Homo sapiens: one gene and its partners. The protein of the gene in region 4 purifies or fractionates together with the protein of the main gene of each other region. This does not show direct contact. Each region holds a gene or a part of one and is shown on either strand. Other genes may lie near its edges.

What was found. Proteins that work in one complex are often made in the same cells at the same time.
Region 1: the proteins of TMEM185A (region 4) and OSTF1 purify together in Homo sapiens (affinity purification with mass spectrometry; 3 studies listed by BioGRID and IntAct, with this or other methods). This does not show direct contact.
Region 2: the proteins of TMEM185A (region 4) and CCNYL1 purify together in Homo sapiens (affinity purification with mass spectrometry; 3 studies listed by BioGRID and IntAct, with this or other methods). This does not show direct contact.
Region 3: the proteins of TMEM185A (region 4) and GPRIN1 purify together in Homo sapiens (affinity purification with mass spectrometry; 3 studies listed by BioGRID and IntAct, with this or other methods). This does not show direct contact.

What each region holds. Positions count from the first base shown.
Region 1 is NC_000009.12:75,126,514-75,130,013, forward strand, and holds part of OSTF1 (osteoclast-stimulating factor 1), read left to right. Parts: intron 1-1,055; coding exon 1,056-1,106; intron 1,107-3,500.
Region 2 is NC_000002.12:207,746,140-207,749,639, forward strand, and holds part of CCNYL1 (cyclin-Y-like protein 1), read left to right. Parts: intron 1-907; coding exon 908-1,074; intron 1,075-3,500. UniProt on the Homo sapiens protein: Key regulator of Wnt signaling implicated in various biological processes including male fertility, embryonic neurogenesis and cortex development. Activates the cyclin-dependent kinase CDK16, and promotes sperm maturation.
Region 3 is NC_000005.10:176,597,730-176,600,156, reverse strand, and holds part of GPRIN1 (G protein-regulated inducer of neurite outgrowth 1), read left to right. Parts: intron 1-279; 5' UTR 280-322; coding exon 323-2,427. UniProt on the Homo sapiens protein: May be involved in neurite outgrowth.
Region 4 is NC_000023.11:149,625,293-149,628,792, reverse strand, and holds part of TMEM185A (transmembrane protein 185A), read left to right. Parts: intron 1-3,500.

The DNA of each region.
Region 1 (3,500 bases), on a different chromosome or scaffold from region 4:
TATCTACTGATGGTCAAAAGATGTTTAAAATGTGTATCTTTATTCAGAAAGTGTTTTTTGGTTGTTTTTGTTTGTTTGTTTGTTTTGTTTTGTTTTTTGAGACGGAGTCTCGCTCTGTCACCCAGGCTGGAGTGCAGTGGCGTGATCTCAGCTCACCGCAACCTCTGCCTCCCGGGTTCAAGAAATTCTCTGCCTCAGCCTCCCGAGTAGCTATGATTACAGGCATCCCCCACCATGCCCAGCTAATTTTTGTATTTTTAGTAGAGATGGGGTTTCACCATCTTGGCCAGGCTGGTCTTGAACTGCTGGCCTTGTGAACCACCTGCCTTGGTCTCCCAAAGTGCTGGGATTACAGGCATGAGCCACCGCACCTGGCCTCAGAAAGTTTTTAGAACATTTGGTTGGTACAGGCCAGAGCACATATGGTCTGTGTAATTAGCCAACTCCTTAGAGCTGCTTGGGGTTTCTGGACTGGCTGAGTTACTGCTTCATATCTTTTAGCTCTTTAGCCTTATTAATGGTTGAATTACATATTAACTTTTCTCATACAGAAAATGTTCATTCTCCCTGAACATGAAGAGCTAGGATAATGATTTTCTTAAAATGAGCAGATAGCAGATGTTGATCTTAAAGTGTTCAAGGATTGAGGCCTTGTTTAAGAGAAAATCAAGCTTCTGGCTGTTTTTCATGACTCTAATTCTAGACATTTATATTTTTATGAAAAAATGTATACCACCTTTTAGAATTTCTACAAGGAAGAAGTTTTATTAATACTCTATTTTGATATACAAATGTCTTGCTTTGGTTGTAGAAGAATGCAAGATGTGTGTGGAGAATCTTTATATATGTAATTCTTTGAAGTTCATCATGGGAAAAAAATCTAGCCGTCTATTCATGTGTTAATTTTTCAGTAGTGTTTTATTATATGGCTTATGTGCTGATTTAAGTGTATAAAACCACATTGCTTATTAGAATATGATAGAATTTTGAATCTATATAATCATATTCTAATTCATGAAAAATCACATGGAGTCAAACTTTTTTTTTTCTTCTAGCCAGATGAATTATACTTTGAGGAAGGTGATATTATCTACATTACTGACATGGTAAGTCCAGATAACATCTTGTAATACCACATATAAAGACTGTTTTATGTAGCTATAACATTGTAAGTTATTTAAATATATATGTACATAGAAATACATATGTACAAGTCTGTTCATTTTAGCACAATTGATAGTAGCATAAGATTGAAAATAGCCCTTATTTCCATCAATAGGGAAAGAGTTGAATAAGCTTTGGTCTAGCCACAAACAGAATATTATGCAGCTGTAGAAAGAAATGGGGAATATCTCTATATGCTATTATGAAGTAATTTAAGTGAAAAAAAAAGCAAAGTGAGAAAATGTAGATAATATATCCTCAGTTTTCTAGGAAAGGGTGAGAGTGTATGTGTACACACACATACATGCAGACACTTGTTTTTCTCAATTTCAGATAAAAAGTTGAAAGATGAGTTGCAAAGTAAAATTTAGTTTTATTCTATGAAGAGTAAAGATCCTTTCTCTAGGTGGAAGGAGAGAAATAGGGTATAATGAACATAGATGGAAGATAGACTTTTTAGAAAATTATACCTTGTTTTGTGGATTTGACTTTGAACTGATGTAAACCTTGACATGGTTAAAAATTGAAGTAAAAAGCAATCCCTAAAAATTAAAAGCAGAATGAATCAAATGAACTTAATTGTACCCTGGTAATTGGCCTAACCACACAGAGAGGAAATATTCCAAGTTTAAAACTCAGCAATTTGACTGAACATCCATAGTAGAATATGGATATGTATGAAAGACATATATATATATATATATATATATATATATATATATATATATATTTTGTCCATATATATATATATTTTGTCCATATATATATATATTTTGTCCATATATATATATATTTTGTCCATATATATATATATATATTTTGTCCATATATATATATATATATTTTGTCCATATATATATATATATATTTTGTCCATATATATATATATATATATATTTTGTCCATATATATATATATATATATATATATTTTGTCCATATATATATATGGACAAAAAGAAATGGCCAAAAAAGGGTAAATTGTTTTAAATCATGCCCTTGTTAGGGAAATGTAGGTATTGCTAATTCTGAGATTGTTGCATGTGTATTGTGGTTTAGAGCAAATGAGTAATTAGGTCGGTGATGTTGCTAACGGATTTTCAGCATAGCAAAAAGGATACACAGATGTAAGATTAATGACAGTTTAAGAAAAACTCTGTATTCCTTCATCTGAATTGCAAGGATCACATTGTATTTTATCTAAAATAAAACAAAAATATTCCCTGCTGTGTTCTTTGAAAGGGCCTAGGAAAAATGACCAACCCAATAATAATATGTTATTTTCCATTGAAATGTACAGGCTTCTTTGAGAAATGGCTGGTACCAAGTCAGGGGCAGCAGAGGTACAAGATAAACCCAGAACATCCTCTTATTAGAAAACATGGAAGCTCCTAAAGACAGTAGGGTCACACTGAAAGGACTTGGGAACGAACTTGAAGAGACTCCCACTGGCCAAAGATAGGACAATTTGAGCATCAATTAGGGCAACAACTTCCAAGAATTGAAACCCATTAAATACATTTAAATTTATGAGTTTCTAATGTTACTTCTGAGGAAATCTCATTGGTCAGCATGAGAGAATGCTAGGAAATCAGGTTTTTATTCTGACAACTGTTAAGGGAAAGAATCACCATTTATTCTGTGTTTTCTTTATGAATTTCTTACCTGGGCAATCTGAGAGCTGATGAGGAAGTTTTTGTTTAAAGAGGTATTCAGGTTATTTCAATGAAGAAGGAATGATAGAATTAGAATGTCACCATCTTGCAGCCTCTAGGAAATAGTGGATCTAGACAATGATCATCAAGGGCTACTAACATTACAAAAAGAAGCCGACTAGATAGTTTGCATTTCCTAATGGAAGAAATCAATACTGCCTAGGAAATAGCCTTGCCAAAAAAAATTGGAGCTGAATCTAATTAAACCTCTAGAACTGATGACCAATTTATAGGCAATACAGGGAACAGAGGAACATGCTTAATGATAACACAGGGATACAACAGGCAAAATCCATAGAGGTTGACACTACAGAACAAACCAACTGGATTCTTCAACAAATACATTGTAAGAGATAAAAAAGAATGGAGAGACAACCTATAGATTAAAAGATACTTAAAGACAAATCAATCATATTGTATAGCCCTTATTTGAGTCCCAAATTATGGGGCAGTTGGGAAATTTGAGTATCGACCTAGATATTTGATGATATTAAGGAATTATTGTTGGAAAAAACTTTTAAGCTGTGATAATGGCATTATAATTGCCTTTCAAAAAGTATGTGTCTTTCAGAGATACGTACTGAAATATTTACAAATGAAATAATATGATGTCTAGAATTTA
Region 2 (3,500 bases), on a different chromosome or scaffold from region 4:
GACATCCTTTTGTCCATCTGTGTTCCTTGTGGAGGCACTGAATACGGGGAATATTTTACAGCCTAAAGACCTGTCATGCTGCTCTGCACAGCAGCCACTGGGTGGCTCTCTTGACCAGCAGTTCTTCAAGCTAGTGCCACAAAAGGGTTAGTTACTGTGAAAAGGAGAAGGTAAAAATGTGCTCAGTATTACTTGGGTTTTACATATTTGAGCATAATATAGCTACCTGTAAAATTACTATCTACCATGCAAGTATGATACATTGTACCTGGTAGGCACTCATTATTTATTGAACAACTCTATTATGGGTGTGGAGGTGATAAGAGTGCCTCTCTTGATGATGCTGTTTGCTGAGATGTCCAGTCATTCCTGTGACTGGGTGGGAAATGTATATGGGCAGAATAGGCAGCAGAGATATCTGACCTACAACTGTGATTTAGTGTCTTGCTTTGGCTGAGTAAGCAAAGTCTCTGTAGAACATAAGAATAAAAGGCACTTATTTTCTGGTCAAAAACAAAAGAAATTTGTCAGTCATGAATTCTTATCAAAGCATTTCGGGGCCGGGCGCGGTGGCTTACGCCTGTAATCCCAACATTTTGGGAGGATCTGGTGGATCACCTGAGATCAGGAGTTCGAGACCAACCTGACCAAAATGGAGAAACCCCGTCTCTACTGAAAATACAAAAATTAGCTGGGCATGGTGGCGCATGCCTGTAATCCCACCTAGTCGGGAGGCCGAGGCAGGAGAATCACTTGAACCTGGGAGGCGGAGGTTCTGTGAGCCGAGATCGCACCATTGCACTACAGCCTGGGCAACAAGAGTGAAACTCCGTCTCAAAAAAAAAAAAAAAGCTTATCAAAGCATTTAAACTGAACTAAAATCAAAGACCAGTGCTCTATTTTACAGGTTTACTTAGAAAGGCTTTTAACTTATGCTGAAATCGACATTTGTCCCACCAACTGGAAAAGGATTGTTCTGGGAGCCATTCTTCTTGCCTCCAAGGTTTGGGACGATCAGGCTGTATGGAATGTGGACTACTGCCAGATCCTCAAGGACATTACAGTTGAGGACATGTGAGTTTGTAAGGTTTTGGTGAACTTTCTAACCATTTTCCAGTATCTTATTCCTATAAAGTTAACAATTTAAGGAATATTTTTAAAGGTTACATTATGCAGATAATGGAAATAGGCATAAGACTATATCTGTCTATCTTTAGTATAACAGTTCACAATAGAGCAAGACTGTCTCAAAAAAAAAAAAACTAACTTCATATTTTCCATCATTACTTGGTAGGTTTTGATGTGTAATAATCTGCTTGATAAATTGAAAAATATTTTTTGGGTGGTTTTTGGCAAAAATCTTACAAGTATACTACCAGAACAACATAGCACAGTAAATATCTTTATTTTATTTTATTTTTTGTTTTGAGACGGAGTCTTGCTCGGTTGCCTAGGCTGGAGTGCAGTGATGCAGTCTCGGCTCACTGCAAGCTCCACCTCCCAGGTTCAAGCGATTCTCCTGCCTCAGCTTCCTGAGTAGCTGGGATTACAGTGGGATTACAGGCATGCGCCACCATGCCTGGCTAATTTTTGTATTTTTAGTAGAGACGAGGTTTCACTGTGTTGGTCAGGCTGGTCTTGAACTCCTGACCTTGTGATTCGCCCGCCTCCGTCTCCCAAAGAGCTGGGATTACAGGCATGAACCACTACGCCTGGCCTCTTTATGGCTTTTAAAAAGTTATCTGCCAGTTCAAGCTCCTTTCTCTTTTTCATTCATTCATTCATTCATTCATTTATATCTTTTCATGTGACCAGTAGGGTATAAACAGCCCTTAAAGGGCATATGTCTGGCCTTTGAAATAATTGTTTGGCCACTATTAGGTCTTAGGGCCTCTGGACTATTGAGAAGTTACGTAGCTTCAACCTGAGTCACACATTGTATATTTGCTTTTGCTAGTCTTTCCACATTTTATCTGAAGGTCTGTTTTTACAGAAGCCTTGAGATATGAAGATCCCTGTGCCCCTGACCCCTCCCCATTAGGAGTGTTTTTTGTATTTAGAAATTGGTCTCCTGAGTTAGGAAGCTCCAGCGTTCCCCTCAGGCGGTCTGAGAAGCACTGCTGGGGCATCATCCAACGCTCACCACACTCGAGAGGCTCCCTGGGCACTCGGACAACCACAGCACCACTTTGGGGGCCTTGAGTTACCTATGAGAGTGCAAGGATCCTTGCTGAGTCATGGAGTTCCTCACAGATGGCACCAATATGACCCTGAAACAGCAGCTTCATCAGGGTTCCTTCCAGGCTGGCCTCGTGTCGGCCGTGAAGGGAAGGGCCTTGGAGCTTGGTAGGCAGGCTGAGCCAGGGAGGCATTTCCAGCAAAGGCTCTCAGGGTGCCCACCAGACAGTGAGAATGGCTTTGTGGGTGGCATTTAGAAAAATATGAAGGAGCACCTCTTGATGATGTTGAGCAGCAGAGGAAGATCAAGGTCATGACAGGCAGTGGCAAGAGTTTGTTTTTATTGCCTTTGCCCATTACTCCATATGACTGTCATTCAGAATTACCATACCATATATTCACAACTGAAGTGAGGATACTTGTGACTAAAAAGGAACCAGTAATTGTGGTAGCTGTTGAAGTGGCTTCTGGTGAAGTTGACCACTTTACTGTTTACCGAACAGCCCTAGTGATATTGCTGGTAGCCGTTTTAGCAAAGGGTGTGACAGCAAATGAATTTGAAACAAATGGAAGTACTTTTGGAAATTGCAGAAACTAAAGTGACTTTGATCACTGCTGTCATCCGTCTGCAAACTGGTTTCTTGAAGGAAGCAAAATTTATTATTATGAACACTTAGCCCTACCATGATGGCAGCTAAAATGTTCTCAAAACCTGCAACTGAACTGACTGGTGCTCTAGTTCAAGATACAGTATCAGAGAACCTGCAGGGAAATGTGCAGGTTTCTACAGATGTAAGCTTCAGGAGCAGTGGTGGCAGGGGCCAGCTCCAAGAAGACCAGTTCTAAATAGTGCTGTTTGTGTATGCCCAGGGAAGCACCAGGAGCTATGCTACAAACAGGCTGCTTTTGTTTATGATCTTTGGAAAGCATTTCAACAAACTGTTTAATATACATTTGTCTCATCCCCCTGCTGTTGACTATTTGTAGTGGTCTCATTTTGAGTCTAAATTGAAACAATTTTAAATTGGTGTCTATCAGGTTTTTCTTAAAAATTTTCAACAGCTACATGTCCTGTTAGAATATATTTCCCTTTAAAAGAATAAGTTAAACTGAGCAGCTGCTATTCAGACGGTTTGCTGTGCCTGTAAAGGGTATGCTATTCAGCCACCTAGCCATTTAAAAAAAAACAAAAAACCTAGAAGATGCATATTCTGTAAGCATAATGCTTTTCTTCAGTGATTAAACCTCTATTAATATGTGTGTTAATCCTATGAAGTACTATATTTCTACACAGTTAAAATGTATTAGTGGAAAAAATATAA
Region 3 (2,427 bases), on a different chromosome or scaffold from region 4:
AAGAGCGAAACTCTGTCTCAAAAAAGAAAAAGAAAAAGAAAGTTAGGCTGTGGCCAAGTTGTGAAGGGCGTTGAATGCCTTGTAAGACGTCTTTATACAGAGGGCCACTGGGAGCAGTGAAGCAGGGGAGTGACATGCTTGGGTTTGTGTTTTTAGTCTAGGTCCTCTGGACAGGTGGGGACCAGATGGGACACAGCACTCAGTGAGGAAGGGGAGAAGGCAGAGTCTCCTCCCCCACTGAGCTTTGGGAAGTCTGAGTCAGCTCTCTCTCTGTTTCAGAACCAGACAGCAGCCTTGGGTGCAGGCGTGGTCATGAGGGCAGATGGACACTGCTGAAGACCCGGCCTGGCTCCAGCTGCTTCAAAAGGATTCCAGCCCCCCAGGACCCCGACCCACAGCCTTCTTCTGCCCACAGGATGGGAGCCTGGGGGCTGGCAGCTCGGCTATGAGGGATTACTGCCCCTCCCAGCAAAAGGCAAGCCCTGCACCCCCCAGGCACACCCCTGACCAAAGCCCAGGCATGGAGTCTAGACACAGAAGCCCCAGTGGGGCTGGGGAAGGGGCCTCCTGCTCTGACGGCCCCAGAGGGAGCCTGGCCTGCCCCTCCCCAACCTGCTTCTCTCCCCAGGAGTCACCCTCCAAGGAGACATTGGAGGCACATGGAGCCTCCATCTCAGGGACACCAGAAGCCACCACGTCTGGGAAGCCAGAGCCTGTGTCCTCCGTGAAAACTGAGCCCAAATCCTCAGATGACAGAAATCCCATGTTCTTAGAGAAGATGGATTTCAAGTCCTCAAAGCAGGCCGATTCCACTTCCATAGGAAAGGAGGATCCTGGGTCCTCACGGAAGGCAGATCCCATGTTTACAGGAAAGGCAGAGCCTGAAATCTTGGGAAAGGGGGATCCTGTGGCTCCTGGAAGGATGGATCCCATGACTGTAAGAAAGGAAGATCTTGGATCCCTGGGAAAAGTAGATCCTTTGTGCTCCAGCAAGACGTATACAGTGTCACCGAGGAAGGAGGATCCTGGGTCTTTGAGAAAGGTGGATCCTGTGTCCTCAGACAAAGTGGACCCTGTATTCCCAAGAAAGGAGGAGCCCAGGTATTCAGGAAAAGAGCATCCTGTGTCCTCAGAAAAGGTCGCTCCTACATCTGCAGAAAAGGTAGATCTTGTATTGTCGGGAAAGAGAGATCCTGGGCCCTCGGGAAAGGCAGATCCCATGCCCTTGGAAAGCATGGATTCTGCGTCCACAGGAAAGACAGAGCCGGGGCTCCTGGGCAAGCTGATTCCAGGCTCATCAGGCAAGAATGGGCCTGTATCCTCTGGGACCGGGGCTCCTGGGTCCTTGGGAAGGCTGGATCCCACATGCTTGGGGATGGCAGATCCCGCATCTGTGGGAAATGTAGAAACTGTGCCTGCCACAAAAGAGGACTCCCGGTTCCTGGGAAAGATGGACCCTGCCTCCTCAGGAGAGGGGCGTCCTGTGTCTGGCCACACGGATACTACGGCTTCAGCAAAGACAGATCTCACATCTTTGAAAAATGTGGATCCCATGTCTTCAGGCAAGGTGGATCCAGTTTCTCTGGGAAAGATGGACCCCATGTGCTCAGGAAAGCCAGAGCTCTTGTCTCCTGGACAGGCAGAGCGTGTGTCTGTGGGAAAGGCAGGAACTGTATCCCCAGGAAAAGAGGACCCGGTGTCCTCCAGAAGGGAGGACCCCATATCTGCTGGAAGTAGAAAGACATCATCTGAAAAAGTGAATCCTGAGTCTTCAGGAAAGACAAACCCTGTGTCTTCAGGTCCAGGCGATCCCAGGTCCTTGGGGACAGCAGGTCCCCCATCTGCAGTAAAGGCTGAGCCAGCGACGGGGGGAAAAGGAGATCCCCTGTCCTCGGAGAAGGCAGGTCTGGTGGCCTCTGGAAAGGCGGCTCCCACAGCCTCAGGGAAGGCCGAGCCCCTCGCGGTGGGCAAGGAGGACCCTGTGAGCAAGGGAAAGGCAGACGCTGGCCCCTCTGGACAAGGGGACTCTGTGTCTATAGGTAAAGTGGTCTCAACTCCAGGAAAAACAGTCCCGGTGCCCTCGGGGAAGGTGGATCCCGTGTCCCTGGGAAAAGCAGAAGCTATCCCAGAGGGAAAAGTGGGTTCTCTGCCTCTAGAGAAGGGGAGTCCTGTTACCACCACAAAGGCGGATCCCAGGGCCTCGGGGAAAGCACAGCCGCAGTCTGGTGGCAAAGCAGAAACAAAGCTCCCTGGGCAAGAGGGCGCTGCAGCACCAGGGGAAGCAGGGGCTGTGTGTTTGAAAAAGGAGACACCACAGGCCTCAGAGAAGGTGGATCCTGGATCCTGCAGAAAAGCAGAGCCCCTTGCCTCAGGGAAGGGAGAGCCTGTGTCCCTGGGGAAAGCCGACTCTGCACCTTCCAGAAAAAC
Region 4 (3,500 bases):
GCAGCCATTGCTTTGGAGAGATGGGAGAGAACATGGCACTAAGGCAGAATATGGCTATATTTACTTTGAAGAGCATGTCTTTGTCATAGAAATAGTCACTGTCATGGTTTGGTGGGTCCCAAGGCATGGGTCATGGCTCCAGATCCCCTTTCCAGCCTTTTGGATCTTGGTAAGTCTGAACCCACTGCTGCGTTGGCAAGGCTCTGGAAACTATAGTGACAGAGAATGATTCACAAGTGTCAACACTCAGATGTACAGGGCTGCCAGCTGACCCACTCTACCTATTTCCATCTGGCACTGAACTGGTTGATCATGAACTTCTTTTCATAATTGCTTTTTAGTTATGCAGGTTAAGACATGCCGAAACAGATGTACCGGACCCACAAACAAGTCCTTCCTTGAATGCCTGAGGCTTCCTAACAGTGAAAGAGCCCTGTTCTTAGAGTAGGCAAACTGATTCTGAGGCATTGTAGGTGGTAGGGATCTGGTAGTAGGTAGCATTAGGTGGGCTCCCGGCACTCACCATGGAGCCTTGAAATTTTCTGCTACTTTGGGGGAGTTGCTGGTTCAGAGAAGGCCCTTCCACCCTGGTAGCCATGTGGCACTGGAAGGCTGTGAAAACTCTGCTGGGCCTTCTTAGTCATCTGTTGTGAGCTCCTGATGGGAGTGTGGTGTATCCCTCAGGTGTGCTAGACTGGAACAAAGGCTGAGAAGTGTTGCTCTGGGGGTTCCAACTTGTGGGCATGGGGTACTGATGAGATCAGTAGTGTTTGGAGACTTCTGTATGCTCCATCTTCAGAAGACATTCTGGAGTCCATATAAGTTATCTTGTCTCTTGTTTGAAGCAGGAAAAAGGAATGCGATTGCTGGTAATATAGTTCACTAAAGTCAGCTACCTGGCCTCTAACAGTTATTTGCAAAGTATATTATAACATTGATTCCTCAAACATCTAGATTCCTATCTCGTGCCAAGTGATGTACTAGGTGCTCTAAGTACAAAAATAAAGGAATATAGTCCTCCTCTCAATGCGTAAGCCTAGTGGAAGAAGCAGAAATGAAAGGGAAATAAGAATTCAATAGAGTATGAGGCATTACAGTGAAAGAAACCAAATGTCTTAGAAGTACAAATGGCAGAGCTACTAATTCTGTCTCGAGCAGGCAGGGAAGAGTCTATAGTGGAAATGACTTTTGAGCTAGATTTTGAATTGAGCTAGTCTTTTGAGCCAGACTTTTGAGCTAGAATTGTAGGGTTGTCATCAGACCAGAGAGTAGGAAGGGTACCTTGTGAGGAAGAGAGAGAGAGATCAGATTGTTACTGTGTCTATGTAGAAAAGGAAGACATAAGAAACTCCATTTTGATCTGTACTAAGAAAAATTGTTTCTGCTTTGAGATGCTGTTAACCTGTAACTTTAGTCCCAACCCTGTGCTCACAGAAACCTGTGCTGTAATGAATCAAGGTTTAATGGATTTAGGGCTGTGCAGGATGTACCTTGTTAACAATATGTTTGCAGGCAGTATGCTTGGTAAAAGTCATCGCCATTCTCCATTCTCGATTAACCAGGGACACAGTGCACTGCGGAAGGCCGCAGGGACATCTGCCCAAGAAAGCCTGGGTATTGTCCAAGGTTTCCCCCCACTGAGACAGCCTGAGATATGGCCTTGTGGGAAAGGAAAGACCTTACCACCCCCCAGCCCGACACCCGTAAAGTGTCTGTGCTGAGGAGGAGTAGTGAAAGAGCGGGGCCTCTTTGCAGTTGAGATAAGAGGAAGGCTTCTGTCTCCTGCTCATCCCTGGGAATGGAATGTCTCTGTGTAAAGCTGACCATTCCCATTCGTTCTATTCTGAGATAGGAGAAAACCACCCTGTGGCTGGAGGCGAAGTATGCTGGCAGCAATACTGCTCTGTTACTCTTTGCTACACTGAGTTGTTTGGGTAAAGAGAAACATAAATCTAGCCTGCGTGCACATCCAGGCACAGTACCTTTCCTTGAACTTATTCATGATACAGATTCCTTTGCTCACGTTTCCCTGCTGACCTTCTCCCCACCTGTTGCCCTGCTACACTCCCCTCGCTAAGATAGTAAAAATAATGATCAGTAAATACTGAGGTAACTCAGAGGCTAGCGCTGGTGCGGGTCCTCCGTATGCTGAGTGCCGGTCCCCTGGGCCCACTGTTCTTTCTCTATACTTTGTTTCTGTGTCTTATTTCTTTTCTCAGTCTCGTCCCACCTGACGAGAAATACCCACAGGTGTGGAGGGGCTGGCCCCTTTCAGTATCTCAGAAGGGACAAAGTACACAAAGGCATGGGGTCATGATAGTGCCTGGTATGTTCAGGTAGTGAAGAGGTCCATGTGGTATGAGCACTGCAGATGATATGTGTCGTATGAATTAAAAATACATAGTTACTGCAAATAGTTTTTACAGGTTATTGTTTTTAAGAAAGCAGTATCTAATGCACGAGTGTACTGTCAGTACTGTCAATGAACTACTTACCACTCAAGTGACTGCTTATCTGTTGTTCTGTCCTCTCAAGCCACCTACAGTCAGAAAATGGTCTTGATTTTACTGATGTTGCTGTTAATAATAGCTGTGACTTCTTGAGTACCCACCACATGCCAGGCCCAATGTAGGGGCTTTGCATCCATTATCCATGATCTTTACAACAACCCTGCAAAATTAGGTATCAGCCTTATTTTAAAGTCTTGACAGCTTGTGACTTCCCTGAAGTTGCATAGGCAGGAAGAATCTAAGTCAACATTCGAATCCACGTCAGTCTCATGAAGCCTGTGCTCTTTCCTGCGTGCCATGCCATAGTTCTAGTTAAGTGACAACTCCTTTCCTCCATGACATTGTAGATCCAGTATGCTAAGGAACCCTCTATTTACAAATTGTAAGTGATTAAACAAAACAAACCTGTTAGTGGCGCTTATACATCCAAATGAGTGTTGTTATTCAAAGAGGTTACTTGGGGAAAGAGAATGTATACACCTATTCCATTGTTCATACTCCTTGTTACTCATCTGGAATTCCCTTTAAAGTCAGTTTACATATCACATAAGAAGATCCATCTCATTGCTTTATGATCATCTATCATTTTCAACCAAAATAGTTCCACCTAGTTTGATCACACATCTTATTCACTAACCTTGGCTCTGACTGACTGTTTGCCATTTCCAAAATTTGAATCCACCCTCAGTGAAAATTTAGCACCATTTGGGATAGTCAGAAGATCAGACTGCAGGTTCTCAAGGTGCTTCCAAGAAGAAAGCTTCAAAGATGATTTGAGTAATGAAGTACCATTGGAATTACTGCATTGCCTCCCAAGGGGACTGGTTAAAGGAGAGAAATCTCATTTGAATGTATAATTTCCAGTTTTAAAAGTATCATTCCTATTACTTGATAATTACACACACATTGTTCTTAGCTGTGTTCTTTGAGGGCCAGGATTTGGAGGTGCTGAATTACGTGCTGAATGAGTGGATGTTGGGTACAAATAGA